3 separate regions of the Homo sapiens genome follow, and all the other regions are linked to region 2. The links come from fine-mapping of genetic effects on gene expression. A gene starts in region 2. Each other region holds a variant in brackets. All regions are shown on one strand. Distances are from middle to middle. Region 1 overlaps RAB3GAP2 (RAB3 GTPase activating non-catalytic protein subunit 2). Region 2 holds the start of RAB3GAP2 (RAB3 GTPase activating non-catalytic protein subunit 2). Region 3 overlaps RAB3GAP2 (RAB3 GTPase activating non-catalytic protein subunit 2).

Region 1 (10,812 bases), 80 kb before region 2:
AGGTGCTAGGAGAACCTTTTGTTCTAACATTTGGTCTTTGACCCCCCATTTCTGATGGGGAGCTTCTAAGACCTCTGTAATTTCCTGGGTGATAGAAGCTTCTTTTTTTCTAATGAGGCCACTCATGGCAGGCTCCTGGAGAGCTTCAGAATAAGGGGGTGGTTACCAGTGGAACCAACCATGTATTTGAGGATTGAAACTTTTAGCCCAACCCCTGACCTCTGGGGAGCCAAGAGGAGCTGGAAGACTGAGTTGATCACCAATGGCCAATGATGTAATCAATCATGCTTATATAATGAAGCTTCCATCAACACCCAAAAGGACAAGGGTTGGAAGAGCTTCTGGATAGCTGAACGTGTAGAGGTTCCTGAATAGTGGCTTGCCAGGAGAGGGAATGGAAGCTCTGCAACCCTTCCCATATGATTTACTCTATGCACCTCTTCCACTTGGCTGTTGATCTCTACCCTCTGTAATATCCTTTATAATAAATGGGTAAACGTTCAAGTAAAACGTTTCCCTGAGTTCTGTGAGCTGGTCTAGCAAATTCATCAACCGCAAAGAGGGGGTCATAGTAACCCTAATTTATAGCTAGACAGTCAGAAATATAGCTGACAACCAACTACTTGTGACTGGTACCTGAAGTAGGTAGAAGTCTTGTGGGACTGAGCTCTTAACCTGTCGTGATGATCTCATGCTATCTCCAGGTAGATGGTGTCAGAATCGAACTGAATTAGAGAATAACCAGCTGGTGTTAGCTGGAGAATCTGCCAAAGAAATTGACTGGTGTGTGGGAAAAAAAAAAAAAACCCTACATCTAGTGGCAGAAGTGTCGAGTGACTGTGTAAGAGAAAAGAAAAAACCTGTGATACAGTTTTTTCTTACATTTTCACAGTAGCATTATTTTAGATGCTGTGAATTATAAAAATCAAGTATTTGGTAAGGTTCCTACTTGAAGGAGCTTAAAAGACCTAAAGAAAAAAAAGTCGGGGAAGCTATGATTAACATACATGAAATAATTAGAAAATAAGTAGTCATTAACTATCCAGTTTTGATTGAAAGTAGAGTAGGAGTTCAGAGTTATCCATGGGGATCGAAGCATTATGTAAGAATTTGTGGAGTTAGGACTTGAATAGCATTATGAGGGGTTTGGATAGGAGGAGTGGGAGTAAAAGAAATCACCAGTGGTGACCATATTATAACCACGAGCCTGGCAAAAAGTAAAGGTCTGGCAATACCATGGAATATTGAGGCTGTGGAGTAACAGGGACTCATACAGAACAGGTGGGAATATAAATTAGTACAACTATTTTGGGAAACAATTTGCCATCAACTAGTACAGTTGAAGAAGCTCACACCCTAGCAATTCCACTCTTAGGTATAAACGCCAGAGAGACTCTTGCATATGTGAATGAGGAAATATGTACATGGATAAGCATAGCATCATTTGTAATGTCAAAAATCTGGAAACAACCTAACCGTTCACTGACAGGAGTGTAAATAAATTCTAGTCAGTGAGCAGAATTTGTATGGCATAGTAAATGAATCAATTATAACTATAACTACATACACCAATATGAATGACACAGAAACATAATCCTGAAGGAAAAACTAAAGTCACAGAAGACATAGGGCATGACTGCATTTATATAAAGTTTGAAAAGGCAGGAAATGCATCAACAGGTTTCAAAGGAGCCACACAGGAATGACGTAACTATAAAGTAAAGAAAAAGAAAGAACCACAAAATTCTAAATTACAGTTACCTTAGGGATGGGAGAAGGGAATGGGACTGAGGGGGGACACTCAGGGCTCTTTAGAGTTCCTGGTAAGATTTTATTTCCTAAGGTAGGTGGTCATACACACATATTTACTATTTTATATATATAATATATATAATGTAGGGATGTGTAGGTATGTGTATATAAAACACACTCAGATGTATGGCAACCCAGGCTGGAGTACAATGGTGCAATCTCAGCTCACTGCAACCTCCGCCTCCCAGGTTCAAATGATTCTCCTGCCTCAGCTCCTGAGTAGCTGGGATTACAGGCGCCCGCCAATACTGACCCAACTAATTTTTTTGTATTTTTAGTAGAGACGGGGTTTCACCATGTTGGCCAGGCTGGTCTCGAACTACTGACCTCATGATCCCCCTGCCTCGGCCTCCCAAAGTGCTAGGATTACAGTTACAGGCATGAATATTAATTTTTTTTTTTTTTTTTAAAGAGACAACAGGAACTTCTATCTGAAAATAAAGAAAGGGATAAACAATAAAAATGTGAAAAGAAGACTTCAGCCTCTCATGTTTGGGGGAAATAGGAAAATAAAGATTTTCTTAAGAAGGATGTATTATAGCTACTAGCAGGAAAGTTCGTGTATTATATACACTTACTTGTTTTTTGGTTGCAGGGTATTTAATATCAAGAATTAATTCCTTTATTTCTGTTTCAACCAAATCTATAAAGAAAAAAATAATCAAAGTAAAATTTTAATTTTTATAACAGTGAAACATTATTCTGAAAGAAAATGAACATATCTGTACTATCAGTGAGTCTAAAGGATTTTTGGGTTCTCTCACATTAATGTTTTCTTGTTATGAATTATAACACCCTCTAGATGGCACACTTCAGCCTTACAGAGCAATTCCAATAAGCTCATCCATGCATTATTTTGATTGCTCCATTCAGAATATTTTATTGATTTAAAAGATGATAGAACAATATGCTTTATTATTTGTATGAGAGAATACCTACCAAGATTGGGAGATTTTGTTTTCAGTAAGGCTGCTAGTTTCTTCACTAGGTGCATATCCTTGGCTCGTTCACTCTTCTTATCACTAAACCAATAAATATAACAAATTATTACAGAATGTGAAATTATTTTCTTTCTAATTCTGACACACTCCAACTTTTTTTTCCTTTATATATTTCCTATTTAACTTTAAAGATATCAGTCTAAAGACAAAGGAAACAACAAAATAGCAACTACAAAAGAGAGTACAACAAACCTAGGAACTAGGAAAAGTTAGCAGAGGAGCGTCAATCAGCAACACTGGACACACCTTACCTCAGTGCTAAATGGAAGGGAACGTTCACTGTTTTCACACTTCCAGACACTGGATCAACCAGACAGATCTGATAAGTCTGTGGCTGCCAACTCTGACTGGTAACATTATTTAAACCCATTATTTTATAGCCAGGATACAGCAGCCTAAAGAAATCACATACCAATATGGTAAAAATATTAGAACAAGGAGAAATGCCAAAAGGTGCTTTTATTATAGCTAGGAAACCCAACATTATTATCAATTTAGGAGCATTAATAAGGCAACTAAATACTGATAGCAAGTACATAAGTAAAGCAGGGCTCAACCAGCAGAGTTCTGCCTTGTTGAAAGATTCTAAAAAATTAAATGAACACAATCAGGCCCCTGTTTCAATGGCAAACAAAGCATTCACCTCACTTATGACTAGGGCAAAAGGAACCTTTCCTTTTGAGCCTTCCCAGCATAAGTAAGGGACAAACATTAGCAACAAGCTAACTTTAATTCAGCAGTCTATCATGGCATTTTTAATTTTTTTTTTTTGTTATTAAATACTTAAGTACATGCCAGGCACTCACAGGAAAAACCACAATAAAGAATATTGTAATTCTCAAACTTGTAATCTAATAAGCAGCTTTAGTAAAGCTTTATTTTAATAAAAGCATTCCTATATTTCATTTTGTAACCAGCACAATGCCAGCATTTGCAGCTTACCTGCAGTGCTTCCCCACATTGAAAGCTCCTACTCTAGGTCCCTGCTGTGTGCTCCACACTTCTAAAATTCCCCTTCTTGGCGCATAGATCACAAGGAATTGAGCTACTCGACTTGGACCCTGAGAATTTCCAAAGGGGGAAAAATCTGCCTTTTCTGGCACTCTTTCATGGAGGTCCTCTACAGTTTGAATCCATCCAATTTGTGCGTCGCGGTACCCTTAGAGACAGAGGTAAAGGGAAGTTAATTACTTAATCTAGGTTCCATAGTAGCCTCCTGAAGTACTCTGGAATAGTGGGGGTGGGGGTGGGGGTGGGGTAAGAAAAGCTATAAAAGTATATTTTTTATTATGGAATATCTTAAATAAAAAATGATAATAAATAATAACCAGTCTATCACCCAGCCTTATCAAATCTTACTATTTTGCTATATTTACTTCTGACCACTTTTTCTCTTTAAAAAGAAAATATTGGCTGGGCACAGTGGGTCATGCCTGTAATTCCAGCACTTTGGGAAGCTGAGGCGGGTGGATCACCTGAGGTCAGGAGTTCGAGACCAGCCTGACCAACGTGGTAAGACCCTGTCTCTACTAAATACAAAAAATTAGCTAGGCATGGCGGCGCATGCCTGTAATCCCAGCTACTTGGGAGGCTGAGGCAGGAGAATCAGTTGAACCCAGGAGGTGGAGGTTGCAGTGAGCCCAGATCGCACCATTGAACTCCAGCCTGGGCAACAAGAGCGAAACTCTCTAAAAAAAAAAAAAAGAGAAAAGATTATAGATATAATTGAAGCCACCTGATTACCCCTCCTGCTCTCATTCCCTTCCCTTCCCACACAAGCCTTTTGGTGACATGCAGATAGAAAATATGGGTTACAGGACGATGGGAGGAAGCTCTTGCATGGGAGACGTAGCTGATGCTATTTTCCATTTTAGGGTGGTCCCTCACATAGGCAATTGATCCTTCTTTCCAAGGACACAATGGAAAGAAAAACTGGCTGTACTAGCTGCAGACAGGCAATGATGCAAGGAATAAGATTGCCATAGTGGATTTGGAGCAGTCAGTACAGCTTCGTCTTCGTATTTTAGAAAAGTCTTGCTGAGAACATACCTTTGATATTGTTTCAGAAGACAAACACCAAGGAGAAATGATGTATCTGCAGTATTAAAACTATTTCTACAGATACTGAGACATGTAGTAGGTAAAGACTGCCTCTGTCTATCACTGCAGGAGTTCTTTGGCAAGAAGGTGATAGTGGCTTCAATCTGGTCCAGAGTAATTGAATGACCTCAAT[CCATT/C]CATTATTCCTCACATTTTACAGGATAGACAAGATTGCACCATAAATTGTGGTCTATGCTGACATGTTACTATTCCAGATGATTCTAAATAATGTAATCATCCCTTCTTTCTTAGTCAGGGAGATATTATTCACAATGTGCCTAGTTAAAAGATATTTTCAAGTCTCCCTTATAGTTAGATGAGGCCATGTCACTAAGTCCTGGCTAATGTAGATAATGGTTGAAGGGACTTCGGGGAATATCTTCAAAGTAGATTGACTCAGTTGCCAGGAGAAGCCTTCTTCCTTTCTGCTTCCTTCCCGGAATGCAGATAAGAGGGCTGTCTATGAGAACCTTGAGTGGGGAAGCTACAAGGAAGAAGACTGGGTTCCTGAAGATACTGTGGTCTGTTACTCAGGTCTGTTAATAATAGCTGAAGGAAACTCCTAAGTGACATACTTATTGACACACCAGGTGGATTGACCCAAGCATATGGATATAAAAGTCAAGTCAGTGAAGATGGGTTTTGCTATCTTAAATCTGAAAGACTTGGCATTATAGATTTGGGGAGAACATTTGGCTCAAGAATGGCTTTGTGAAGGGGAATAAATGTAGCAGGGGCAAGAAACTGAACTCAGAAATTGACAATAACAGTGAGAATTGAAAGAAAGTGCAAAAGGCAAAGGTTAAACATGGCTATGAGGTGATCAAACCTAAAAGATGTATCAACTGACTACTGGACCAAGTGGTTGCTGATCTGAGTTCATGTCAAAAAAAGAAAATGTAAACATGAAGAATTAAACAGAGTTATCATCCAGAAGCTGAAGGATGATAACATTGCTCAACTATTGGGGTAAAAAGTGAATTAATTGTTTTTCTGGATTTTTGTAAGAAGTACCTTTCCACATGCGTATTGCAATTCCTCTAGCTACATCCAATAAAATAACTCTGCCGAAATCATCTGTTACTGCTGCCAGTGTGTTACATGGAGACAGACATATGCTTTCACCATGGCGTCTAGAATCTGGAAGTCCAAATCTGATATTTAAAAGAAAATAAAATGCTCAAATCACATTCCAGTTCAGAAACATATAACAGAATAACGAAATGCATAAATGAAATAGGCTGAATCTGTTTTTATATAAAGAAATATGAATTTTACCTGGATTAATAGTTAATTTATTAATCACAACTGACATTTGTAATATAAAATACATAAAAGAAATAAAACCACAGTCCTATGTAGGTTTTCAATAGATACCCACAACCCTATACCTTTAGAGAATATAAAGTATAACTATATTTGATTAAAAGGCATGTCACAGAAAACAATGTCCTCACCATCAACTAAATTTTAGAATATGCTCCCACACAGGCATCTTTTGTCTATTTTAAATTCTTCTTCTTAATCTTTCTCTTTTTTGCAAGATATGACATCCTGCTGACACCAATCTGCCTGAAGCAAAAACCTTCCTTTTTCTAAATAGTTATCTCTAAACTTCTGTTGTTCTATAATCAACCTCATTAGAATTGTGAGTAAAATAAAAGTAAAGAAGTACTAAAAGAGAACTAGGAAAGCTCATTTAGAGAAAAGTCCCTGAAACAAAGGTGCCCAACCTTTGTTACATCTATTAGAGACGCACAGGGCCATGTGACTAATTTATTGACTCTTGATATTAGGAAATGTGATATGTTACAATGTATTTTTTAAAAAGATGAAAAAAAACTTAGAAGCTATACTTCGATAAATTTTAATAATTAGTTGGCTCTTCTTAGGTGAAGAACATCCATAAAGAGGAGGTGTTCTATTTCCCTTCATGGTGGTACTTTATATTAGGTAATAAAAAATGATTTTAAAACAAAACCAAACATTAGAAAACATGCTCCTATCTAAAAAATAATAATGAAAAAAAAAAGCAACAAAAATCATGCTCCCTCCACCAAAAAAAACTCACCAATATACTAACACATTCTAAAGCACTACTGAAGTAAACAAGGAAGCACAGGACAGGAGTCTGTTTAAAGAGTGCCTGAATACAGGACTCCTGCTTTTACTTTTTTTTTTTGAGATGGAGTTTTTCGCTCTTGTCCCCCACTCTGGAGTGCAACAGTGCAATATCGGCTCACTGCAACCTCTGCCTCCCGGGTTTGAGCAATTCTCCTGCCTCAGCCACCGGAGTAGCTGGGATTACAGGCACATGCCATCATGCCTGACTAATTTTTGTATTTTTAGTAGAGACAAGGTTTCACCATGTTGAGCAGGCTGGTGTCAAACTCCTGACCTCAAGTGATCCGCCTACCTAGGCCTCCCAAAGTGCTAGGATTACAGGCGTGAGCCACCGCAATCCACTAGGATGACTTTTTTAAAAAGAAATCACTAAGTACTTTTAAAGTTTATACAACTTAGTAACAAACTATCTAAACTTTTAAAAGAAATTTAACAGCTATCACTGAATTAATTCTCCTACAACTAAGCTAAGTTTATTTGTTAAAAAGCACACTCAAGAAATACATCTTGAATACCTAGTATATAACAGGGATAAAGCTGTGAACAAAACAGGTAAGAATCACTCTTCACATGGAGTTTTACATTCTAGTGGGAAAAGAAATTCCACTGTAATGGCTTTCAGAAGTTCCAAAGACAAGATCAGCAAATCAACCAAGCACACGGAAAGACCATACATTTAACAGTACCTTTCTAAAAGGACTAAAATTTGGGAAGCATGACAGACTTGCCTTACAGCTAATGGGGTAGCTGGCTCAACCTTCGGCTTTTGCTTTTGGACAGCTTCTTCTTCGTGCTTACTTTTCCAACCAAGCCAACCACTGAAAAGAAAGAAAACTTAGAATATAAAACTGAGCTTCCAGGGTTTTAAAGTGCAAACTATCAAAATATAAGTTAAAAGCAAGCTAGATACAAATGAGATATTTGTTATTTTAATTGTTAAGTAATTACCTGGCAGCATTAAATAAAGCAGAAGTGAGTTTACTTGCAACTGCTAGTGCAACATGGGATAATAATGGTTGTGTGCTTCCCTGAAAAACAGAACATTTGAAAGAGAAAACTTAGTAGCTTACAAAGAAACAAACATACTTTCTAAATAAAGCTTACTTTAAAATGCTTTGAAAAGTTGTAAAGGCTGGACTAGCAACTCAGCTTCTTTCAGAGTACAGTAAAAAGTTTATTTTAGGCGTAATATGAGAAAAAGTTTTAACTCTATAGTTTAAAAATAAAATCACAATTAGTCTATTTTACCATTAGAATTTCTCTCTTTAAATTGTAATTTCATTCAAATAAATTTTAAACTAGGACATTAAGATTACATTATTCTAGCTGGACTATGGATTTCACACCTACACATAACTGGCTCCTTTCTCTCTTTAAATATATATATATGCACACACATATACACACACACATTTTTATAAAAGTAAAAAGATATTTTGGACAATTCTGAGAAGCATGCTTTTTAAGTGAGAAACAAGAGCTGCCAAATCTAACACTCAACTTTCCACTATTTTAGGAAGCAATTTTCACCACTTATAACAAGTATAGTTGGCAGCTTGTTCTGTCTTTACAACTCCTCATTTACTCAAATCCCTAGTGGGCTGGCATCATTAACAAGCCTGAGCTCCTGACTATTGCACCAATATTTAAAGACATCTCAGCTATCAAAGAACTCAGGGCTTCAGAAACAAAGAATTTCCTTTTATACTGATGGTAGTACCTTTTCAGTTAATCTAAAGAATTTAGAAGAAAGCTAGTTGAGATTAATTTTAGTTTCAATTGAAATTTAGAAATGTAAACTGCTTAATCTTCTAAGGCTAAGCAAGTTACCATATCCAATTTGTAGACAAATTGTAAAATCAAGAGCAGCCTTACTCATGATCATTGATAAAACTCATACCTCTAAAGCATAGAAGAAGCCAGTAAATGGATTGGACCCTACAGTGATATACTGAGACATGGCAGGTGGACTATTTTTAATTGCTGCATTAAATCCACCTATATTGGAGGCAGTCTTCATTTGATCAAAGGGGGACAGAGTCATAATACCTAATAAAAAAAAAAAAGTGATTTGAATGTACAATGTTATTGCGGTCATTACATTTTTACTTCAGTTCCATTCTAAGATGCTAAATGTTTAGTTTTATTTAATAACCAAAAGTCATTTTAAAAGCTACAAAGTCAACATCAGAAAATATTCTGCCAGGCATGGTGGCTCACTCCTATAATCCCAGCACTCCGGAGGCCAAGGCAGTTGGATCACTTGAGGTCAAGAGTTTGAAATCAGCCTGGCCAACATGGTGAAACCCCGCCTCTACTAAATATACAAAAATTAGCCATGCATGGTGGTGGGTGCCTGTAATCTTAGCTACTTGGGAGGCTGGGGCAGGAGAATTGCTTGAACCTGGGAGGTGGAGGTTGCAGTAAGCTGAGGTCACACCAACTGCACTCCAGCCTGGGCAACAGGGCGAGACCCCATCTCAAAAAAATAATAATAATAAATATTAAAATTTCCATCTATAATTTCCATAATCTATAGAATATCATAAAAACAAAATTTAATTTTTTGAACAGATATGAAACTCAGAGGTACCAGAAGTATACAGTCCACTTATATCCCCAAATACCAATTCACTTCTTTTTTTTTTAGTTTTTGAGATGGCGTCTCACCCTGTCGCCCAGGCTGGAGTGCAATGGTGCAATCTCAGCTCACTGCAACCTCTGCCTCCCAGGTTCAAGCGATTCTCTTGCCTCAGCCTCCCCGAATGGCTGGGATTACAGACGCGCACCACCATGCCCAGCTAATTTTTGTATTTTTAGTAGAGACGAAGTTTTGCCATGTTGGCCAGGCTGGTCTCAAACTCCTGACCTCAGGTGATCCTCCAGCCTCAGCCTCCCAAAGTGTTGGGATTACCGGTGTGAGCCACTGTGCCCAGCCAATATAGGCGTGTGCTGCTGTGCCTGACCTTACTAAATTTCATATACATATATTTCAGGCCTCCCCTTTGCCTGAAAACTGTCAAAAAATGCATTCGTCCTTAAGACGTGTCCTAGGAAAGGAAATTCTTTGAGTGAGTTCATACGCAAGCCATTCACTGGCTTTATAGGAATTAAAGTGATCAAACAAATCCTTGGACTATTTTTTAAACTCCCCTCCCACCTCCTAGACCATTATAAAAGATCAGAACACCTATCTCATAGTCATGAATGAATCCATGATTCAGTATACAAAATGTTTTCACTACATTACAAAATTTGCTTAAGTTTTGCCTGACTCCACCAAAACACGATCAAAGGGCAAACTATATGGCACATAAATTGAAATTTAAGTTTTAAAACAGCTTCTTTTTAAACTCCCATGCAATATACATGGGAGTATAAATTACTACACAGTAATCCAGAGGACAATTTTGCAATAGATATGCAATTTTTTTAAAGGATTCTAATTTATTGTAAGGAAATGGCTGATCAATCCTTTCCATCCTTGCTACCAATGATGTTTTCCTTCCTATAACTTAAATCATCTATTTTCAATGTCACACTTTAGATCCTGTCATCAGCAACTGTAGATTCTTTGTATTTTTGATTTCAAGCTTACCACACTTAGACCACCACCTCCTAGCTTTCCATCTCAATTACTCCAGAAACTCCCTGCAGTAATTTCACAATTTCGAGTTTAAACTAATTAATCCTACTATTTTTTCCACTATTTATCAAGTACCTCTTGGGATCACTTCCCTTTCCATCCAGCTTAGCTTTGTGTTCCATCATCATC
Region 2 (10,812 bases):
AACATGCTTCAACAGTCTTGAAATGAGGTCCCTGGCTCCCTCTGTTACAAAGTCAGGGAATGTGAATTCTCAACCCGTGATATTCTTTTGTAGGTCTCTTGGTATGTATTTGCCTCAAAAGGAGGCTTCCCAACTAAAAATTCACAGCAAAGAACTCCAAGGCTCCAGAGATCCACCTTCTCATCATGCATCCGACCTTCAATCATTTCGGGGGGCAGGTAGTCCAGGGTGCCACAGAGAGTGGTCCTCCTGGAAGATGGAGCATGTTCTGACCACCCAAAATTTGCAATTTCAAGCTCTCCAGCTGATCCAAGAAGTAAGTTCTCTGGCTTAATGTCTCTATGAATAACTGTTTTTGAATGACAGTAAGACAGGGCACTTGCCAATTCTGTGATATAAGTAGCAGTTCTCTGCTCATCAAACTTTGAAAGTTTCTGAAGTTCTGTATTGACTGTTTCAAGTGGTGTATATTCCAGAATTAGGTAGACTCTGGTGGCATCATGGAAATAACCATACAGTCTGATTATATTAGGATGTTGGAGGTGGGACTGTATTTCTACTTCTCTTCTGAGTTGATGCTCCACTCCTGCTTTCTCCAGCTGAGCTTTAAATAACACCCTAAGAGCCAGAATAAACTTGCTTTGTTTTTCTCTTGCCAAATAAACATTACCAAACTTTCCTTTACCCGGAGGGCGACCAATTTCAAGGTCTTCCAAAGCCCATTGCCTCTTTTTGATTCTTCATTTTTCTGTTTTGATGCCAGTTCCTCCTCAGGATTATTTTCAGGTGCCGACAGCGGGGACTGCTTGCTGTTTTGGGTGTTATTCAGTGGCCTGGAGGCAGGATGAGGTACACTGGTTGCCTGCAATTGCTTCTGCTTCTGATTCTGAACTGGCTTGTGACTGGAGACAAGCTTTTGTGCTTGCAAAGGAACACGCTGCGAAGAATTTGAAGGACACAAGACCCACTGAGCCTGGCCACTATTTGCAGGTAATGGATTCTGACAAGGAAATTGCTGAGTCACGAGAACATGTTCTGGACCTCCAACTGGAGTTTTAGCCTCAACAGGCCCTGAAATGCAGTTTTCTTCAGATTGGTCCGTGATGCCTATGACCCAAGGACCTGAGTCTTCCAAGAGCTCAGCCCAATAAAAGCACTTTTAAACCAACTGATACACCTCTATAATTCACAAGTAATTGAGGTGTTTTATGTTTTTACATATCCTCTAGAGATGAGCTAGGTTAAGAAATTACAACTATATCAGCTAAAAAAATTTAAGATGATCTCATGATTTCTGCTTCCCAATAAACATTTATAACATTAATAAATAAAGTGAAGAAAAGCAAAGGCAAATACCATCAGCAGTTTAAGTCAGGTCCTATTTACCTGCTCTGCTAATGTCATTTTTTCTCTGTAAAATTTCACTGTACAAAAGTTTACGTTCAAAACTCTTTATATTACGGCTTGGCCTAGACTATCTTAAAAGTGCTCAGAACACTTACATTAGCCTATAGTTGGGCAAAATCTTCTAACACAAAGTCTATTTTATCATGAAGGGTTGAAAATATCTCATGTAATTTCTTGAATACAGTACTTCTTGAATACCGTAGAGTACAGTCTCTCATATTTGCTGCTGCTACCCACCATCACAAAAGAGTATCTTACCCATTGTATCACTAGCTCTGGAAAAGATCAAAGTGCAAAATTTGAAGTATGGTTTCTACAAAGTACACATTGCTTTCACATTACTGTAAAGCTAAAAAATTGGAAGCCAAACCATCATAAGTCTGAGATCATCTGTACAGGTTTTACAAAGGGGCTCACTGGTGAAGAGGTCCATTCTGTTCATTTTCTACATGAACTGATCATAGCCACAATAATATCAACATACATAAACTCAAGAATTTGATTTAGAAGAGAAATACATTAAACCATATTTATAAATCTATAGGTATAGTGCAAATTAATCTAGATGTTTGGGGTGTATTTATATCCCCAACTGCCTATGTAACTTGGACAAGTATTCAATCTGTATGTACCTGAGTTTTAGCACCTATAACTGTGCCATACTATATTATAGGCATTAGCCACTTTGGCTACTTAAATTTAAATTAATTAAAATTAACTTGAATTTTAAAAATTCAGTTCCTCAGTTGCACTGGCCACATTTCACAGGCTCAATAACCACATGTGCCTAGAGGTTACCATACTGGACAGTAGAAATATAATGATGAAAATAAACAGGATGATATGATTGAGAACAACAAGTAGGAACAAGGGGGTTGTATTGACTACTTTAGATCTAGATCAGGTGGTCAGAAAAGGCTGCCCTGAGTTGACATTTGAGCTGAGACTTGAATGACAAGATGCAACTAGCATGCAAAGATCTGCAAAAAGCATCCAAGGCATAGACAACAGTGAGGGCAAAAACCTTAGCCACAAATGTGGTTGGCTGGTTTAACAACAAAAAAGAGCGTCTGAAGCATAAGAAATAAGGGGAGAGGTGTATAAGGTCCAAGAAATGGCAGGAAGCAGAGTCTCAAGGGCCTTATACACCATTTAAGAACTTTGGATTTTACGTTAAGTGCAATCAAAAACCATTGAGTGTTATTAAAAGGGCAATGTTAGGCTGGGTGTGGTGGCTCATGACTGTAATCCCAGCACTTTGGGAGGCCAAGGCAGGTGGATCGCAAGGTCAGGAGTTCAAGACCAGCCTGGCCAACATAGTGAAACCCCATCTCTACTAAAAATACAAACATTAGCCGGGCATGGTGGCGCATGCCTGTAGTCCCAGCTACTCAGGAGGCTGAGGCAGAAGAATTACTTGAACCCAGGAGGTGGAGGTTGTAGTAAGCTGAGATCATGCCACTGCACTCCAGCTTGGGCAACAGAGTGAGACTTCATCTCAAAAAAAAAGGCAATGTTGTGATCTAAATTATGCCTTAAAAGCTCACTGTAACTACTGTTGAGAATTATTACAGGAAACCAAGAGCAAAAGCAGGAAGAATTGCTAGAAGAAGACACATATCATATCATAGCCCAGGTTGAGAAAAGATGGTGGCCTGGACCAGGAGAGTGGTAGAAGGATAAAGAAAATCTGTTCCTTTTTTCTACATTCCCTATCTACAATCCTGCATCTGCTATCCTTCACAGCCAAGCTCCTTGAAATAGTATATTTCACTTTTTAACCCCTTATCCTATAACTATGCTTTCTGCCTCCACTATCCTACTGAAACTGTCCTAAGGTCCAAGTTACCTCCACCTTCTCAAAACCAATAAGCATTTTTCTATCCTTTTCTTACCTGACCCCTGCTGCATTTGCAAAACTGCTGACCATTCCTCACCCTCATCAAGTTCTCGCCTTCCTCAGCTCCGAGGGCCTTACTCTCACATGATTTTCCTCTTTCTTTTACTCCTTCTCAGTCTTCTTCCCAGTAACCTCTACTTGACTTTTAAACACCAGTGCTCCTCTAAGCTTACAGCTTTAGTACTCAGTGCATTTCACAACATACATAATCCTTGAGACTGAACTGACACTTTTTGCTGTTAGCTCCCCAATTAACATCTCTGGCCCAGTACTCCCTACTGTTTAGACTATCTATATCTGGTGTTCAACCAGATGTCCTTACTTGGACATACCATAAACATTTAAAATGCAAAAGGTTGAAAATCTGTATCCTTCATTCTCTTATTACATATAGTTGCCCAAACCACAAGCCAAAGACTTCCTAAACTCCCCCTCACTTACTAGTTACAATGCCCATCACCAGACCTTCACAAGGTCCTGCAGATTCTAACTCCTTAACGTCTTTCTAATCTAGTCCTTCATCTTCATCCTACTAAGGTTCTTAATTCAAGCTCACATAATTTCTTGCTTGGATTACTGGAAGAGCTTCCCAATCCATTTCCCTTCTTCCAATCTCTCCTCCACTTTGCTACCAGAGCACATTACAGGTCTTCAACAAATGTTGTTGATTACATTAAGTACAAATCTGACAATGTCATTTCTCTACTTAAACTTTCAGAGAAACGCCACAATTTTCACAAGGCCTCTCATGGTCTAGCTCCTTATTACTACTACTGCCTCATTGCCCCAACTCTTCCTCTCCCATCCTCCTCTCCAGCCATTCAGCTTTTCTTAGTTCTCTAAATACCATGCCATTTCAGGCCTCCCTTCCTCTGCACATGCTATTACTGCTCCTTTACTCCTCTAACTAGTACTTCAAAGGTAGGCTTAAGTATCACCACTTCAAGAAAATGCCTCATGTATATCTCAGTCACACTGAATGGAAGTTAATGATTTGTCTGTAAACCAGAAGTTCCTACAGCAGGGTCCACCAACCTTATTTGGTTTGTAGCACCAATGACTGGCACAAAGTATGCAATCATTCACAGATGGGTTCGATTTGATATCTTCTAAATTTTCTAAAAAAGGGAGAGGAGCTTAGTGGGCTTTATATCACCATTCCGGTATAGCACAAAGTGAGAGCGCTGTACTACAAAGCCAAATGTGCTTCAGGTTGGAAATGCAAAAATAAAATAAAATAAAATAAAATAAAATAAAACACAAGGCACACCCTTTCAAAATGAAATGTACGAAATTCTGAAAGCCTATATAGTATCTAATAAACCAGCCTTGGAACTTTATACTACTTGGGGAAAGGCTTATTAAACACTTTGATGATAAAAATAGGTGGAAGGCTTCAATAAAGCAAATTAACCTTTCTTGGCTATGTCACTGTAATTTTAGTTCCTAATGTAGATTCTCGTTCACTTCCTGACAGGTTATTTTCCTTCTTTGAGAGAGTCTTACCTCAAGAGTCACTCATTTGTCAGCCATTTGTTCTCAAAATCTGAATGGGGGAAATGCAGATGAAAGAAGGGAGAGTGTGGGGGGATGATCAACACTTTCGGAATGGGAGGTAGCAGAAGGCCACAGTCTCCGGGATGGAAGAGAGTGGGAGCTGGGGCAATACCAGAGTGGAGCGCTGACATGTGGCAAGGAACGGGGAGGATGCGATCACGGAGCAGGCAACATGAAACAGGGAACGACCCCAGGCTGAAGATGGGAGACGGAGAAGATACTCAGAGAGAAAGCTAGGAATGTGTGGGGGTGGGGGGAGGGAGGGAGAAAGCGGTGATAGGCAGAGGCGAGAGGAAACAAGACGCAGTTTTTAGCCAGGGGTCAGAGGGCCTAAGGAGAAAAGCTGGGTCGAGAGGAAGACAACACAAATGGGGCTTCAGGACGAGGTGGGCAGGGTGTCATCCCGGAGCGGAGGGGAGGCACGGGGAGAACTGGGGGTCCAGAGGGCAGAGGCAGGAGGCGCAGAGCGAGTAGGAGACTCGAACCCGTGAGCAGAGGCCGCGGGTGACGAGGGAAGGAAGGGCGAGGCCAGAGAGGCACTTACTGGGGTCCCTCCGCAAGGCGCCGCTGAGGATCTCCTCCCGCAGGTGAGGAAAGAGGAAGTCCCGGGCGGCCTGGAGGTCCTGGAAGTAGCAGAACTGGACAATGGAGCAGGCCATGGCTCCAGGGAACCCCACTACGGCACTCACCTTACCTCACCACGCCCTGCCCCCTCCACCCCACTGCGGCCGCCACCGAGCCCCAATAGCTCTAGCCAAGCAGAAGGCGGAGAAACCAAACCGGAAGCTGTCACTGACACGGGTCCGCTGTCTCCGAGTACTGCGCAGGCGCAGGCTGGCCCAGGCGCCTAGGGCGCGGGGGCCCGGGTCACGTGACTACGGCGCCGCCGCTGCAGGTGGAGCCAAAGTCGACGTGGAGGCTTGGGGCAGATTTTTCAGTCCCAGTTGTGTGTCTACGCCGAGGCATGAACCCTTTCATTCATTCTGGCTTTTAGCCAGAGGTGTTCTAATTGGACTTGTCCGCGCAGCCCTTTGACTTATTCAGTCTTATTGGTCCCCTACTATTGGCACGATCCTGATGTTTCACAGAAACTAATTCGTTTTAAACTAGTGGCAGGCCAGTGGGGGACCGTATCCTGCAAGAGTCGGATTTTGAAAAGATTAATTGCTCTTCCGGAGATTAGCCCCGTCAAGGCTGGCTTTAAATGCTCCTACTATAGATTCCCATAGTACTACGCAAGCCCAATATAGTACGTGTTATAGTGTATTATACACTTTTGTTTTCATTATTCATTTGGTTTTTCATTCATGCATTCATCCATCCATTCAACAAATATTTGTTAGTCTTTTAAATGCCAGCCACGCAGGGTGCTGAGCATTAGAGAACAAAAGAGAAGAAGTACCTTTTCCCAGAAAGCTGGAATTCTAGTGACTGATACAGGCAGTAAGCAATTAATTACAGTATTTCCCTTTAATCCAAGGGGATATGTTTTAAGATCCCCAGTGGATGACTCAAACCATGGATAGTACTGAAACCTATGTATGTGTATTATGTTTTTACCTATACATATATATGATAAAGTTAAATTTATAAATTAGGCACAGTGAAAGATTAACAATAACTAATAATTAAATTGAATAATTATGTGGAAAATGAACCCATGGATAAAGGGGGGACTACTGTACTTAACTATTTAACTGAAATTGTGATCATGCTAGTAAGTGCTTCATAAATATTTGCTGAAGAAATAAATGGAATGCATACATAAAGTAAATAGAATAACTTGTTTCTTTGACAAAGCACTATTTTTGAAAGTACTTTACATTGTTCATTTGGATAGTCACAAATGCCATCTAAAAATAGTGTGTCTTATCCCATTTTTAAAATAAAGAAATTGAGCTGTCTCTGAGCAGACTTTAAGTTATTTTTCCAAAAAATAAAAACAAAAAAAATTATTTTAATGTGAGCACAAAGGCCTGTAGGCACTTACACATTTCCTAAAGGAAACCTAAAGAGGCCATCCACTTTGTATGAAAAAAGGGCACAGGAACAAATGAAAGGCAAGTGGATGGGGTCCAGAGCATTCATTTCTGTCAGGCCCGTGGACATACACACTTAGTCCTAATAATATAACAACTATAATTTAGTGCCCAGGTTCCTACTCCATTATTTCCTACTTCTAGAGTAGGATGATTTTCACAAAATAGGATAGGCAATTTCTATGTTATCAGGTTAACAGGAATCAGTTCTTCACCTATAAAAGGCAGTTGAATCAGATGTGCTGTAAGGTCCCTTTAAGCATCAGGGACCTATACTTCTGTAATCAAAGCTTTCAGAAAAAGCAAGCTGCCAGTGCTCCCTTCTTCCATCTGAAGAAATGCAGTGTTTCCTCAGATCATCACTAACTAGAATAATCCAGCCCTGATAAGATTATTCCCTAAAATCCAGCACCAATCCCAAACTAAACCAAAATTTAAATTTAGATTCTTAGTGTTACTGGACGAATAACAAACACATGACACTTTCTGGAAGGAGACTGTCATTCCTTGAAAACCATTCAAGTTCCTATTCAGGTAAATGCATTTTGTGGAAGTAACTGCTGTTGGCTGATTTTGCTGGCCTTTGTTCTTCCCTGAGGCATTCATATGTCTCCTGTGGTGGTCATTGAATTTCATTACTGTGTTGGCTCAGTTTTAATGGTGAAGTCCCTGACTTCCTTCCAAGTACTGTTGAAAAGGATCATTCATGGATGTTTTTAAGGACTTTAGATACCCTTCACAGAAATTACAACACATTCATGAACTGAACTCTTCCCCCAGGAAGTTGTAATGCAACAGGGGGGGATGCCTCTGGAGTTCTGCTACCATGGTTTCTGCGGCATGTGGGAGGATTGCATCAGACAGTGAATATCACTTATTCCACAGTCATAAGAAAGCACATTGCAAAAATGTGCAGGCCTTACATATCCCAGCATTGACAGTGTCTCTCCGAGGTCTGGGTTCAGGAGGTAGGAAAAGCACTGTGACCAAAATAACAACAGGATGAGTCCAGGTACCAATGTGAACTTCCTCCAGTATCCATTAGTGTGAGTCAGAGCACAGATGACTGTTGTTAAGAGAGAGATGTGTTACTGAGGAAGATAAGCAGCAGCCCCTTGCCAATCCTTAGCAGCAGCTTGAAGCGAAGGGGTTGAGTTGCAGGATGGGCACTAAACGCAGATGTGAGAGAAAGAGCAATGGACTTGGAATCATGACTTTGGGGAATTCATGTCACTTTTTTGGGACTTAGTTTCTTGGTTTATAAAATGAAGAGGCTGGGCTCTAAAGTTCATCCCAGGGATATGTAGGTTTTGGTAAGAGACTGGGAATGGCAAGTTCTGGGAGCTGGAATTGCTTAGAAGGAGTGGTCTGTGTAAGCACCCTAGTAAGAAGCTTGGGTCAGCAGGAGAAAATGTGAGGGTACTGGACATCTCTAAGGGAAAGTAAGGGGAGCATAGCAAGGGCGTGGAGAGTCCTTGAAGCCTTACCTCATAGCTGTGCTAAGGGTCATCCTTGAATTGAAGATTGAGCAGAAGCAAGGGCTATTTACAGTTATTATTCAACAAACATTTATGGAGTGCTTTTTACATTAAAGATACTGTAGTAAGCACAGTAAGGCAATAAGGACAAGTGATCCAGAGATTCACTACTTAAAAGCAGACAAACACAAATGCTCTAAGAGCAGAGTGTGATGAGTACCATGGATGGCTTTTGGATAAAGGGCAGTGGGAGAAATAAGGGAGAGATTAATTTAGATCCCTAGGGGTGTCCCTTGGAAAAGAAGTAGTGTGGAAGAGGTAGGAAAGGCATTAAACAAATTGGTTCTTGATTATAGAGAACCTCAAAATCCAAATAGTGAAACCGCCTTTGCAAAATTATGACTGAGATAGTGAAAGAGATGTAACTTAACCGACTCCATCTTGCTTCTAACCTCCAAGCTGTCCTTGTTCATTCTTGGGCGTAAGTTGAACTAACTTTGAGAGAAACTTAGTTTACAGTTTAAACAAAGACGGTAACAGCCTTTTCCCAAAGCAGACCTCCTTCTTACCCGGGGACTAGATTGCCTTCGTAGGACTAACATTAGCCACAAGATTAAAAATTATGGTTTAGGAGTCATGCAGCTGGAGAGTGTGACCCTCCCTAAACTGCTCCTAAGATCAATGCTTGAACTATTTTGTAGACCCTGCACTTGATGGATCAGCTGGCACCACCCAAATCAATAAACTGGCTCATCTGACCTTGTAGCCCCCACCCAGGAACTGACCCAGCACAAGAAGGCAGCTTCGACTCCCTATGATTTCATCCCTGACCAATCAGCACTCCTGGCTCATTGGCTTTCCCCCACCCACCAAGTTATCCTTAAAAATTCTGCTCCCCGAATGCTCAGGGAGACTGATTTAAGTAATAATAAAACTCCGGTCTCCCTCACAACCAGCTCTGCGTGAATTACTCTTTCTCTGGCAATTCCCCTGACTTGATGAATTGGCTCTGTCTAGGTAGCGGGCAAGGTGAACCCCTTGGGCAGTTACCATAGTATGGTCTGGTCTTTTTCTGTGTGCAAGGTATAACCAATTGAAGATATTTTGAAGAAGATGTAGAAGTATGTGGGATGACTGAAGGCAGATAGACCCCTCTAGATGTCACAGCAATATTCTAAACAAGAAGTAATAACATTGGAAAGGCAGTGCCTCTCTGGTGGCTGAATCAATAGAATTTTGGTATACAGTTAGATATAGGTGTGGGAAGGGAAAATATGACCCAAGGTGATGTTCAAGTCTTCAGTCCAAAGAATTGGAAAGGTGGCAATGTCATGTCAGCAACCAAGATAGAGAATGTAAAAGGAGGAATGGCTTTGGGACAAACAAGAATAGGATGAGGCTGGGCACAGTGGTTCATGCCTGTAATCCCTGTGCTTTGGAAGGAAGAGGTGGGAGGAATGCATGAGGCCAAGAGTTCGAGATCAGTCTGGGCAACATAGAGAGACCCCATTTCCACACAAAATTAAAATTAAAATTAAATTGTCTGGGCCTGGTGGTGCATGCCCATAATCCTAGCTACTTGAGAGGCTGAGTCAGGAAGCCTGCTTGAGCCCAGGTTTGAGGTTACAGAGAGCTATGTTTGTGCCACAGCTCTCCAGTCTGGGTGACAGAGCAAGTGAGACTCTGTCTCCAAAAAAAAAAAAAAAAGATAAATGGATAAATTCAGTGTTGGATTTGTTAAATTTGAACTGCCCGTGGAAGAGCTAGGTTTTTTTTTTTTTAAGTTATTTTTATAAACTGAAGTTCCAAATTGGGATTGGAGAGGCCAGAGCTAGAACCTACCTATGGAAGTCTTCCACACAGAAATTATATTGAAGGGAGGGGATGAAAGTGCCAGTGGATTCTAGATGGGGTGAGAGCAGTGAGAGCAGGATTGGATGAGGAAAACAAGGTGGGAGGACTATCTTTTTTTTTTTTTTTTTTTTTTGGTACAGAGTCTTGCTCTGTCACCTGGGCTGGGGTGCAGTGGCATAATCTTGGCTCACTGCAACCTTTGCCTTCCAGGCTCAAGCGATCCTCCCGCCTCAGCCTCCTGAATAGCTGGGACTATAGGCACATGCCACCATGCCTGGTTAATTTTTGTGTTTTTTGAAGAGACAGCATCTCACTATATTGCCCAGGCTGGTCTTGAACTGCTAAGCTCAAGGAATCTACCCTCTTTGGCCTCCCAAAGTGTTGGCATTACAGGCATGAGCCACCATGCCTGACCAACTGTCTATTTTTTTAGAGGTGGATGGAAAAAGAAGCTCTAGTAAAGGAGATAAAAAAGACATAGTCAAAGAAGAAAACTGTACATGGTAGGACCATGCTACAAAAGCCCAGTGAGGAAGAAGACATTTTCACAAAGGGGTAAACCTATTGTATTGAATTC
Region 3 (10,812 bases), 92 kb before region 2:
GCTGAAAAAATTGGTTGCCTATACAGTTAACAAAGACATTCTATACTCAATCAAAAATAACTCTGTCTCGCTGTTTTATGTGCATGTATACTGGGAAGCAAATCAAAAAGAAATGTTGGGGGAGAGCAGAATTTATCTTATATTTTAGGCTCACTGTTAAATTGCCACTAGATTCACTTTGATAAATTTTACATACAAAATGTCTGACCTGGGCCTGTTATTAAAGTGCATCAGATTTCTTTTCTTTTCTTTTCTTTTTTTTTTGAGACAGAGTCTCACTCTGTTATTTAGGTTGGAGTGCAGTGGCGCGATCTTGGCTCACGACAGCCTCCGCCTCCCAGGTTCAAAGTGCCTCAGCCTCTCAAGTAGCTTGGACTACAGGCGCGAGCCACCATGCCCGGCTAATTTTTGTATTTTTAGGTAGAGACGGGTTTCACTATGTTGGCCAGGCTGGTCTCGAACTCCTGACCTCGTGATTCGCCCGCCTTGGCCTCCCAAAGTGCTGGGATTACAGGCGTGAGCCACTGCGCCCGGCCGGAATACCAGATTTCTAAACATACCTATAGATTTAATGTCTCTTAAAGCTTGGTTCATTTCCCCATCAACAACAAAGTTTCAAAATGCTCATCAAAATTGGCAGCCAGAAGTTTATTTTATATTAAGGCAGCCAAAAAAATTAAATGCCATGCCTTGGACCTCTCTTCACACTATGAATTCCACTTTTCTCTCCAACCAACCTCTCCTCTACCCACCATCACTTGTAATAAAATTCTGAAACAAACAAAAAACCTGCTCTGCTTAACTTTGCTTCTTATTTCTCCCTAGGTTACCTCCTTCTATTTCCCACCCTACAGGTAGTCTCTGTTTATAACCTAGAGTGTGTTTTTCCTGTTTTCTATAAACATTAAAACTTCCAAACAGTCAAGCTTTTGTTTGTATATAGGAGATCAGTATAAAATAGAGGATGCCAAAGAAACTATCAGAACATAATCATATAATTGTAGAATCACTTATAAGCAATATAGATATTTTAAATTGCAGGAAACATTAAGATGAAAGAAGAAAAATAAAGAAGTGAATACAGAGATAAATTAAGTTACCACATAGAAACACATATATGGACACATATAACAGGAGAAGAGTCTAGTGTATAAAGGTAACTACCTCCATAACTAGTAAATACAAAATAAGATATTCTAACAGTCACAACAAAGAATGCCACATTACATTATTCATAATATATTTATATTATGAATTCACATATTAAAATATTAACTGTTATCTCACATATAAATATGTTATATATTGACATATAACCAGATGATGTCTAAATAATAGATTTTGAGTAACAGAAACCTTGAGGTCACCAAGATGGCGGAATAGAAGGCAACCTACTTATATTCTCTCACAATAAGGTGGTTGATCTGTCCCCCTGAACTGACTTCCAGATTGAAGCCCAGAAACAGCCCAGTCCCCACAAGGGGCTTGGCTACTTCCCTGTTTGCCCATGATCCTGCCACCAAAACCATTTGCCATGGGGTCCAGAAAGAACTGTACACACTAGTGTTTTGGCAGAAAGGCTAGTCTGCCCGCTAGCACTGGTCTCAGCAGTGGGCTGGAAAGTAGCCTTGTGGTGCTGCTCTCACCTTCCTTAGCTGAGGTCCCAGCTCAGAGTTGCTTGCATAAGGACCCAGAGGCAGACTCACCCATATCTCTCAGCCCAGGACTCAGAGCCTCCCTGACAGGCTCACCAACCTCTATCTCACAGCAGATCCCCCTCAGGGCCCCCTCACTGCAGCTGGAGAACTATCCTATCTGTGCAGGAACTTGCTGAAGACACATGCCTCTCTGAGCCAACATGAGACACACCAGCCTCCATTCCCACAGCTGATCCCAAGAGGGCCCAGTCTCAGCTCAAGCCCCTCCTGTTGCAGTTGAGGAATTACCTCACTTGTGCAGGAACCTGCTGGGCGACACATAACCATCTGAGCCAACAAAACAGGCCCCCCAGCCTCCTTTTCACACAGATCCTAAAGAGGTCCAGTCTCACTTCTACCCCCTCTAACTGCAGCTGGGGACCCATCCACCTGTGCAGACACCTGCTGGGATGCATACCTGTCGGGGCCACCAGGACAGACTTCTGGACCCAGGTCCCTGGCCAGTATTCCCAAATAGCCTCAGTACCCTCCTTGGGTCTTCCCCCAGTCCATGAAGGATAGAAAGCCACATAAACTTCAGAGCTCTTGAGAGACCTGCAGCAAGCCTGGGCTTAGAGTGATGTCAAGTGTTGCAGTGGTCACAAGCTCAGGGAACATGAAAGTCAGTCAGCTTAGAATCCCTGGAAGGCCCTCTGAGGAAGGTCAAGTACAAACAAAGCCAGACTGTGAAGACTAAAGTACATACCTAATATATCAATGCACAATACCATCGTACTACCACAAGCATCGAGAACATTCAGGGAAACACGACCTCACCAAATGGACAAAGAAAGGCACCAGAGACAGAATCTAAAGTGAGGGAGATGTGTGATCTCTCAGACAAAGAATTCAAAATGGAAGCTCAACAAACTTTAAGAAAACCCACACAATCTATTCAAAAATTTATCAGAGAAATTTTTAAAAGGTTGAAATACTAATGAAAAAAATCAAATAGAAACCTCGGAGCTGAAAAATAAATAAAATTAAAAATGCAATATAGAGCATCAATAGCAGAATTGATCAAACAGAAGAAAGAATCAGTGAATTCGTTGATAGACTATTTAAAAATACATAGTCAGAGGAGAAGAAAGAAATGAAATGAATGAAAAGGAATGAACAAGGTCTATAGGATCTATAAAACAACATCAAAAGAGCAAATATTGGGGTTACTGGAGTTAAAGAGAGAACTGAGAAAGACAAAGGAGTAGAACGTTTACTCAAATAAGTAATAACAGAAAACTTTCCAAACCAGAATATACAGGTACAGGAAGGTCAAGGGTCACCAATCCGAGTTAACTCAGACAAGAATACTCCAATTTACAAACTCATAAGGGTCAAAGACAAAGAGAGAATTTAGAAAACAGCAGGAGAATAGAAGCAAATAACATATAAGATAGATCCAATATGCTTGGTAGCAGATTTCTCAGCAGAAACCTTACAGGCCAAGAGGGAGTGGGGCAGTATGTTCAGAGTGTTAAAGGAAAAAAACTGCCACCTAAAAATACTGTACGTGGCAAAGTTATTCCTTAGAAATGAAAAAGGGAAATAAAAGATTTCCCGAGACAAACGAAAGCTGAGGGAATTTACTGCTATCAGACCTATCCTATAAGAAATGTGTGATTTCTTAGACACTAAAGGGAGTTCTCCAAACTGAAAGAAAATGATGCTAATGTGATTGTCATACTAATATTCTAATCACGGTGCTTAAACCACATATATCTTTAGTAAGAAGACTAAAAGAAAAAACTATCAAAAAACTGACAATTTGTTAAGAGACAATAACATAAAATGATGACATCAAAAATGCTAAAATGGGGGGAGAAGAGAGTTAATGCGTATAGGTTTTCTTTTTATGGTTTGTTGGTTTTGCTGTTTTGTGATCAAAGTTAAGCTGGTATCAGTTTTAAATACTTGTTGTAACTAGATTTTTTTTGTAAGCCTCATGGTAATCACAGTGCAAAGCCTACAATAGATACACAAAAATCAAAAGTAGCGAATTGAAACATACTACAAGAGAAAATCACTTAACTATAAAAAAAAAGACAGAAAAAAGAGAGGAGTTACACAGCAACTAATAAACAAGTAACAAAATGGCAGTAGTAGGACCTTACCAATCAATAATAACACTGAATGTAAGTGGGCTAAATTCTCCAATTAAAAGACACAGAGTGAGCTGGGCACAGTGATATGCACCTATAGTCCTGGCTGACTGGAAGGCTGAGAGGAGATAATAGCTTAGGCCCAGGAATAATAATAATAAAAAAAAGACATAGAGTGACTCAACAACATAAAAGTGTATACTGCATACAAGAAACTCACTTCACCTATAAAGGCTAACATAGACTGAAAGTGAGGGAATGGAAAAAGATATTCCATAAAAATGAAAACCAAAAAAGAGCAGGAGAAGCTGTACCTATATCAGACAGAATAGACTTTAAGTTGAAAATTATAAAAAGAGACAAAGGGGAGGCTGAGGCAGGAGAATAACTTGAACCTGGGAGGTAGAGGTTGCAGTGAGCCGAGATCATGACACTGCACTCCCGCCTGGGCGACAGTGAGACTGTCTCAAAAAAAAAAAAAAAAAAAAAAAGAAGACAAAGATGGTAATTATACAATGAAAAAAGAGTCAATTCAGCAAGAGGATCTAACAATAGTAAGTATATATGCACCCAACAATGGAGCACTCAAATATATAAAGCAAATATTAATAGATCTAAAGGGAGAGACAGACTTCAATACAGTAATAACAGAGGTCTTCAACCTCACTTTCAGGAATGGACAGATCTTCCAGGTAGAACATCAATAAAGAAAGATCAGAGTTAAACTACATACTAGACCATATGGACCTAATAGACATTTATAGAACATTTCACTTGCTGCTGCAGAATACACATTCTTTTCATCAGCACATAAAACATTCTCCAGGACAGACCATATGTTAGCCACAAAACAATTCTCAACAAATTTTAAAAAGTCAAAATCATGTGAAGTATTTATCTGACAACAGAATAAAAGTAGAGATCAGTAACAAGAGGAACTTTGGAAACTGCACAAATACAGATATTAAACGACATGCTACTGAACAACCAATGAGGCAAGGAAGCAACTAAAAATAAAATTTAAAAATTTCTTGAAAAAATAAAAATGGAAATACAACATACTAGAACAATGGGATGCAGCAAAAGGAGTGCTAAGAGGGAAGTCGGCCGGGTGCGGTGGCTCACGCCTGTAATCCCAGCACTTTGGGAGGCCGAGACAGGCAGATCACGAGGTCAAGAGATCGAGACCATCCTGGCCAACATTGTGAAACCCCGTCTCTACTAAAAATACAAAAATTAGCTGGGTGTGGTGGCGCATGCCTGTAGTCCCAGCTACTCAGGAGGCTGAGGCAGGAGAATCGCTTGAACCCAGGAGGCGGAAGTTGCAGTGAGCCGAGATCGCACCACTGCACTCCAGCCTGGTGACAGAGTGAGACTACGTCTCAAAAAAAAAGAAAAGAGGGAAGTCTATAGTAATAAACACCTCAATAAAAAGACTCCAAATAAACAATCTAACAATGCACCTCAAGAAACTAGAAAAGCAAGAACCAACCTAAAAATTAGTAAAAGAAGTAATAAAGATCAAGCAGAAATAAATGAAATTGAGAATAAAAAAATTACACAAGATCAACAAAAAAAGTTGTTTTTATTAAAAAAGATAAACAAAATCAACAAACCTTTAGTTAGACTAAGAAGCAAAGAGAAAAGACTCAAATAAATAAAATCAGAGACAAAAAAGAAAACATTACAATTGATACCATAGAAATACAAAGGATCATTAGAGACTATTATGAACAGCTTTATGCCAACAGCAGTAGAGAAACAGAAAACCTCAACAAACCAGTAATGGGTAACGAGATGGAAGCAGTCATAAAAAGTCTCCCATCACAGAAAAGCCCAGATCTGATGAATTTCCTGCTGAATTCTTTCAAACATTCAAAGAAGAACTAATATCAATTATACTCAAACTATTTCACAACATTGGAGAGGAGGGAATACTTCCAAACTCATTCTATGAGGCCAACATTACCCAGATACCAAAACCAGACACATACATAATAAAAACAACACATTAAACCATCAACAAGCTCACAGAGGTAGGATGCCCAAATCCTGGCCAAAATATAACATGTAAATGGGGGTGTGTGAAAGAGTATGCAGTTGGCCCTCTGTATCCATGCATTCCACATCTGTGGATTTAATCAACTGTGAGTCAAAAATATTCAGAAAAAAAAAGATGGACGGTTCCATCTATACTGAACATGTACAGGCTTTTTTCTTGTCATTATTCCCTCAACGGTACAGTTTTAACAATTTACACATTTACATTGCAGAAAGTATTATAAGTAACCTAGATATGATTTAAGGTATACAGGAGATGTGCATAGGTTACATGCAAATACCACACCATTTTAACTTTTTTGCTTTTTAGAGACAGGGTCTCACTCTATCACCTAGGCTGGAGTGCAGAGGTGCAATCAGCACATCCTTGATCTCCCTGATTCAAGGGATCCTCATGCCTCAGCCTCTTGAGTAGCTGGGAATACAGGGACATGCCACCATGCCTGGCTAATTTTTTATTACACCATTTTTTATCAGGACCTTCTGTATCCATGGTTTTGGTAATGGAGGGGGAGGTTCCTGGAACCAATCTTCCATGGGTGCTGAGGGACAACTGTGTATGCATGCATGTGTAGGGGATAGGTAATAACAAAGAAGAACAAGGAAGATGGGGTAACTTTCCTTGTTTTTTTCAGAAAGGGTAAAAATTTAGTGTTGTATTTCCTCCTTGGATGATTCTTTTGTTTTATATTTGTTATATTAGAGATTACATTATAATATATATTCAAAGTCTGAAAATGTTTGGTAACAATTCCACATTGCTTTATGGGAAGCTTATTTTGTTTTTAAGATATTTTTCATTGTAACATGACAGTTTTTTACTGATGATCCAATTCCACTGTAAATGCACGCATATAGATGGGTGCACACAGATTCTAAACTTATTTTAGGCCAACTATACGATATGCTTGTTAACATTTACAGAAAATTGGCCAGGCATGGTGGTTCTTGTCTGTAATCCAAAAGCTTTGAGCGGTCATGCGGGGAGGATTGCTTCAGGCCAGGAGTTTGAGACAAGCTGGGCAACATAGCGAGACCCCCATCTCCACAAAAGTAAAAAAAAAAATTGCCCAGTAGTCTCAGCTACTCAGGAGGCTGAGATGGGAGGATGGCTTGAGCCCAGGAGGTTGGGGCCACAGTGAGCGATGATCACACCACTATACTCCAGCCTGGGTGACAGAGCAAGACTCTCTCTCTCTCTCAAAGTAAAAGAAAAAAAAAATTACAGGGTATAAGAAAAATAAATAATATTA[CT/C]TCTATTAAATATGGTGATTAAAATTTTCTTTGATCATTTTTAGAAAGTTTTCATGGACATTCTGTGATATCCTAAAAGACAATAGTTAAAAAAAAAAAGAAGACTGACACTTCTGGGTGACATTCACAAGGAAGAACAGCATCCAGCAACCAAAAAAACCTTACCAACAACAGCTGAGGGCTAAGACCAGCCGACTCCAAAGTGTGACACATATCCTCAGTGGAGCTTTCTCCATGCAAACACTTCCAAAAAAAGAAACTACCTGGTAGAAGAAAAACAAAGCACATTAATCAATGACTACTTACCATTTGGACTAACAATCTTATTGAATCACAATCTGGAATTCCAGAGAAACAAAACATTATGAAGGAAGAGAAATTAATTGTTCAATTTGCTTGATTTATTAAAGCAGAAAGCAAATCATGATCCAATATTGTCTCTTTAGTATACTCATTAATACAACCTGTTGACCAGAGTATCTTTTGTTGGCCAAAAAATACAGTACATTAAATCCTTTCATTATTTAAATTTCAAAACAAATGGAATCTCTGAGATGCTATATGTTCCTACCATGTTTTCTTCTAAAAGAAGAGGCATACAAAGACCAGTGTATTATTTTACCTACCTAAAGCCACATATTCCTCTTCACTTATTTTCTTTATGTTGAGCACATCCTTTTCATATTCTAAATATTCCAAGAATGTTTTTACAGGCAACACACCATCTTTATCATCAGAAAATCGAACATTTGTCCTGGTGTTCTCTTGCTTATATTTCTCTAGTAATGCCTGGAGCTTAAGCAGTTCTTTTTCATCAAGCCTTAGTAACAGAGCCAAGTCCTTTAAAACAGAAAACAAAACAAAACAACATTCCACATCTATCACCCACATTATCTGAACTGAAATTCAAGGCTGTAAGCAAAAGTCGACTTTTTAATTAATATAATACCTATCATGTATTCTGCTTAAAACTTTACTTACAAATCACGTTTCATGAGTAGGAAGTTATTTAAATAAAGTAAACTATAATTTTGAAACACTGCATGTTTGGTACCAAACCAAACATGGTACTAGAGGTAGGTACTAAAAGAAATGGTATTAAAAGTACCATTTTAGGATATTTCTTGAGGGTACTTTATTATCTTCTAGAATGTTAGCATTTTTTTTTTTTTTTTGAGACAGGGTCTCACTTTGTTACCCAGGCTAGAGTGCCTTGGCACAATCATGGTTCACTGCAGCCTTGACTTCTTGGGCTCAAGCAATCCTCCTGCCTCAGCCACCTGAGTAGCCGGGACCACAAGTGTGCACCACCACATCCAGCTAATTAAAAATTTTTTTTTTTGTAGAGGCAGGGTCCCACTATGTTGCCCAGGCTGCTCTCGAACTCCTGGGCTCAAGTGATCCTCGCACCTCAGCTTCCCAAAGTGTTAAGGTTACAGGTGCAAGCCACTATGCCTTGGCAAATGCTAGAATTTTAATAAACATGTATTACTGTATAATCAGAAAAAAATTTAAAAGGGTGTCAAACGCAACTCTTACTATTCTGAGGAAACTAAATATTGAACTTAAATGCTTAATTATAAAGCAGCGTAAACACTATAAAATAAAAACATAGAAAAATATTCTCATTGTATCTACATATAAGTCCTGTATGTGGCTCTCAGGGATACAACCTGCTAGGCTTTCAAACTATTTTTATATACTATATGTACAAAAACATATCATGGCTGGGCATAGTGGCTTATGCCTATAATCTCAGCACTTGTATAAATAATATAAATATAGCAGCAAAGCACAGAGAGCTAGCAGGGGGCTTGGTAAGGAAAATATACCTTTAAAGCTTTAAAAAAAATTCTTAATTTTCTACTTCTTTACTACTAATTTTAAAAAGTAAAACTAATCAAAGAGATTATTTTATATAATATAAAATGTGGGATTACTCACATTATCAGAGAATGGTGTGTCTAAATGAAAATCAAGGGAATTTAATTGACTGACAGACTCATAGAGTTGCAGCAGTTTTAGTTTATTGGCACAAAACTGTAGCAATCCTTCATCAACAGACTCAAGTTCTAAAAGGCAGAAGGAAAAGTATATATAAGAGATATATTTAACAGACTCATAAACAGGCTTTGCTTTCATTAAATCTCTCAATATTATGTAATTCCCTGATGCTCTGATGTATTAAATACTGAGATGCTTAAGCTATACCAGGTTTTGAAAGCAAAAATAATTTTTCTGTCATGACAAAATGTCTAACTTTTTAAATAAAATAAGATGCTCTAAAAGTAGGGAGATAAAAAAGGAAGCGGAAATATCTTCATCTAATACTTAAAATTTAAAGAAATTATCTGGAAATACCTTTGAAAATATTTTCCCTGACTACATAATTCATATACTGTATGAATATTTATATCTAATATAAAAGAAATATTTATTCTTTAAAAAGGGAGACACTGATAATCCCCTCAAAATCTTATTTGAAATACAGTATCATGGAATATTGTTCAAGTTCTTATAGCCATAATAAAACTGACCACACAAAATGATTAAAGTTTTTAGGAATCTTATGTTTATGTAGAACTTGAAACTGATGATTTTATGGAATTCCAACAATGGTGTTTGGTTTACTACCAGGCCAGTGGAAGATAACTTTTCATTTAATAAATTTTGGGATGTTGTGAATGCCTTGAGGGGTGGGAGGGCTTTGTAAGTATACCACGCTTTTTAAAAGAGGGATTTATTTCTGACAAGTGGTGTATGCTAAAGGAGTTCACTATTTGCCAATGTCAGTTTTATGTATCTGTTAAAAAAAAAAGGTTGAAAAAGAGTCTCAAAATTAGCATGTTTGAAGTCCTGAAAGAACAAATTATAATTTGTGTATTAAGCCACTTTAAGCTGTCTTACACACAACTAAAACACAAAGCTGGTTTTACATAATTAATATGACAAACAAAAGTCACAACTAGATGACATCAGTCCACTGCACACAATTTAACTGATGTTAGGAATTCAGAATAAAGTGAATTTTTACTAGTTCAGTTGGATGGAATATGGTGTTACAACCCCACAGTTTCAAGTTTCAAGTGTAATCCTTTTTCAGACAAATACATTTTGACGGACTGATGGATTTTAAAGAACAATGTGATAGTACAGACAAATTTTGAATATCAAAAAATGACCAGAAAATTCAGAAATAATAATCTGATTGTTGATTGTGATTCTGGAAGTCCTTAACTCTGTTCACGAGGGAAACTGATACACTGATAGAACATTAATACAAAGCTATATCAGAATAACCACTTATCATTCTATCCTGACATCTTTCCTCACAATTAAAAACAACTTCCCAATAACAGTCAATACATTCAAAGACAGCTTAGATGAAGATCAACTACATATATTAAATAGGGAATAAATAAGATTCTTAATTTCTTATATCTATATTACTTCCACATTAAAGTAACATGATGGTATCACAAAGTCAATAGCTTTCTATAATCAGAGTTACAAAATTTGAGTTAAGAACATAACCTCCAATCAGTACAAACCCTATTACCTTGACTTTTTAAAGTGTCCATTAAAGTCTGAGTGATGTTTCTAAGGCAAGAAAATGGTAAACGTTCACTTGCCAAAATGCTTTCCAAAGCCTAGGAGAAAGATATTGAACAGTTCTAGTAATTATAAGGCAGTGATTTTGT

The links. PIP is the estimated chance that this variant, and not a neighbour inherited with it, causes the effect.
Region 1: its variant is fine-mapped to the expression of RAB3GAP2 in whole blood (INTERVAL, PIP above 0.99).
Region 3: its variant is fine-mapped to the expression of RAB3GAP2 in fibroblasts (GTEx, PIP 0.93).

The regions. Positions count from the first base shown.
Region 1 is chr1:220,187,313-220,198,124 of GRCh38, forward strand. It overlaps RAB3GAP2 (RAB3 GTPase activating non-catalytic protein subunit 2), which reads right to left. Exons shown (of 35, transcript NM_012414.4): 10 at 8,938-9,086; 11 at 7,986-8,065; 12 at 7,766-7,855; 13 at 5,928-6,067; 14 at 3,756-3,972; 15 at 3,065-3,208; 16 at 2,752-2,834; 17 at 2,391-2,455. Among named protein-coding and RNA genes, the nearest start is that of MIR664A, 7.9 kb to the right of the region's middle. The variant CCATT/C (reference allele first, on the strand shown) is at 5,047.
Region 2 is chr1:220,266,815-220,277,626 of GRCh38, forward strand. It overlaps RAB3GAP2 (RAB3 GTPase activating non-catalytic protein subunit 2), which reads right to left and starts at 5,639. Exons shown (of 35, transcript NM_012414.4): 1 at 5,409-5,639. The coding sequence starts at 5,523. It also overlaps the pseudogene AURKAP1. RefSeq lists enhancers at 452-1,651, 3,733-4,234.
Region 3 is chr1:220,174,981-220,185,792 of GRCh38, forward strand. RAB3GAP2 (RAB3 GTPase activating non-catalytic protein subunit 2) reads right to left here. Exons shown (of 35, transcript NM_012414.4): 18 at 10,671-10,761; 19 at 9,056-9,183; 20 at 7,738-7,951; 21 at 7,277-7,374. Among named protein-coding and RNA genes, the nearest start is that of MIR664A, 20 kb to the right of the region's middle. The variant CT/C (reference allele first, on the strand shown) is at 7,111.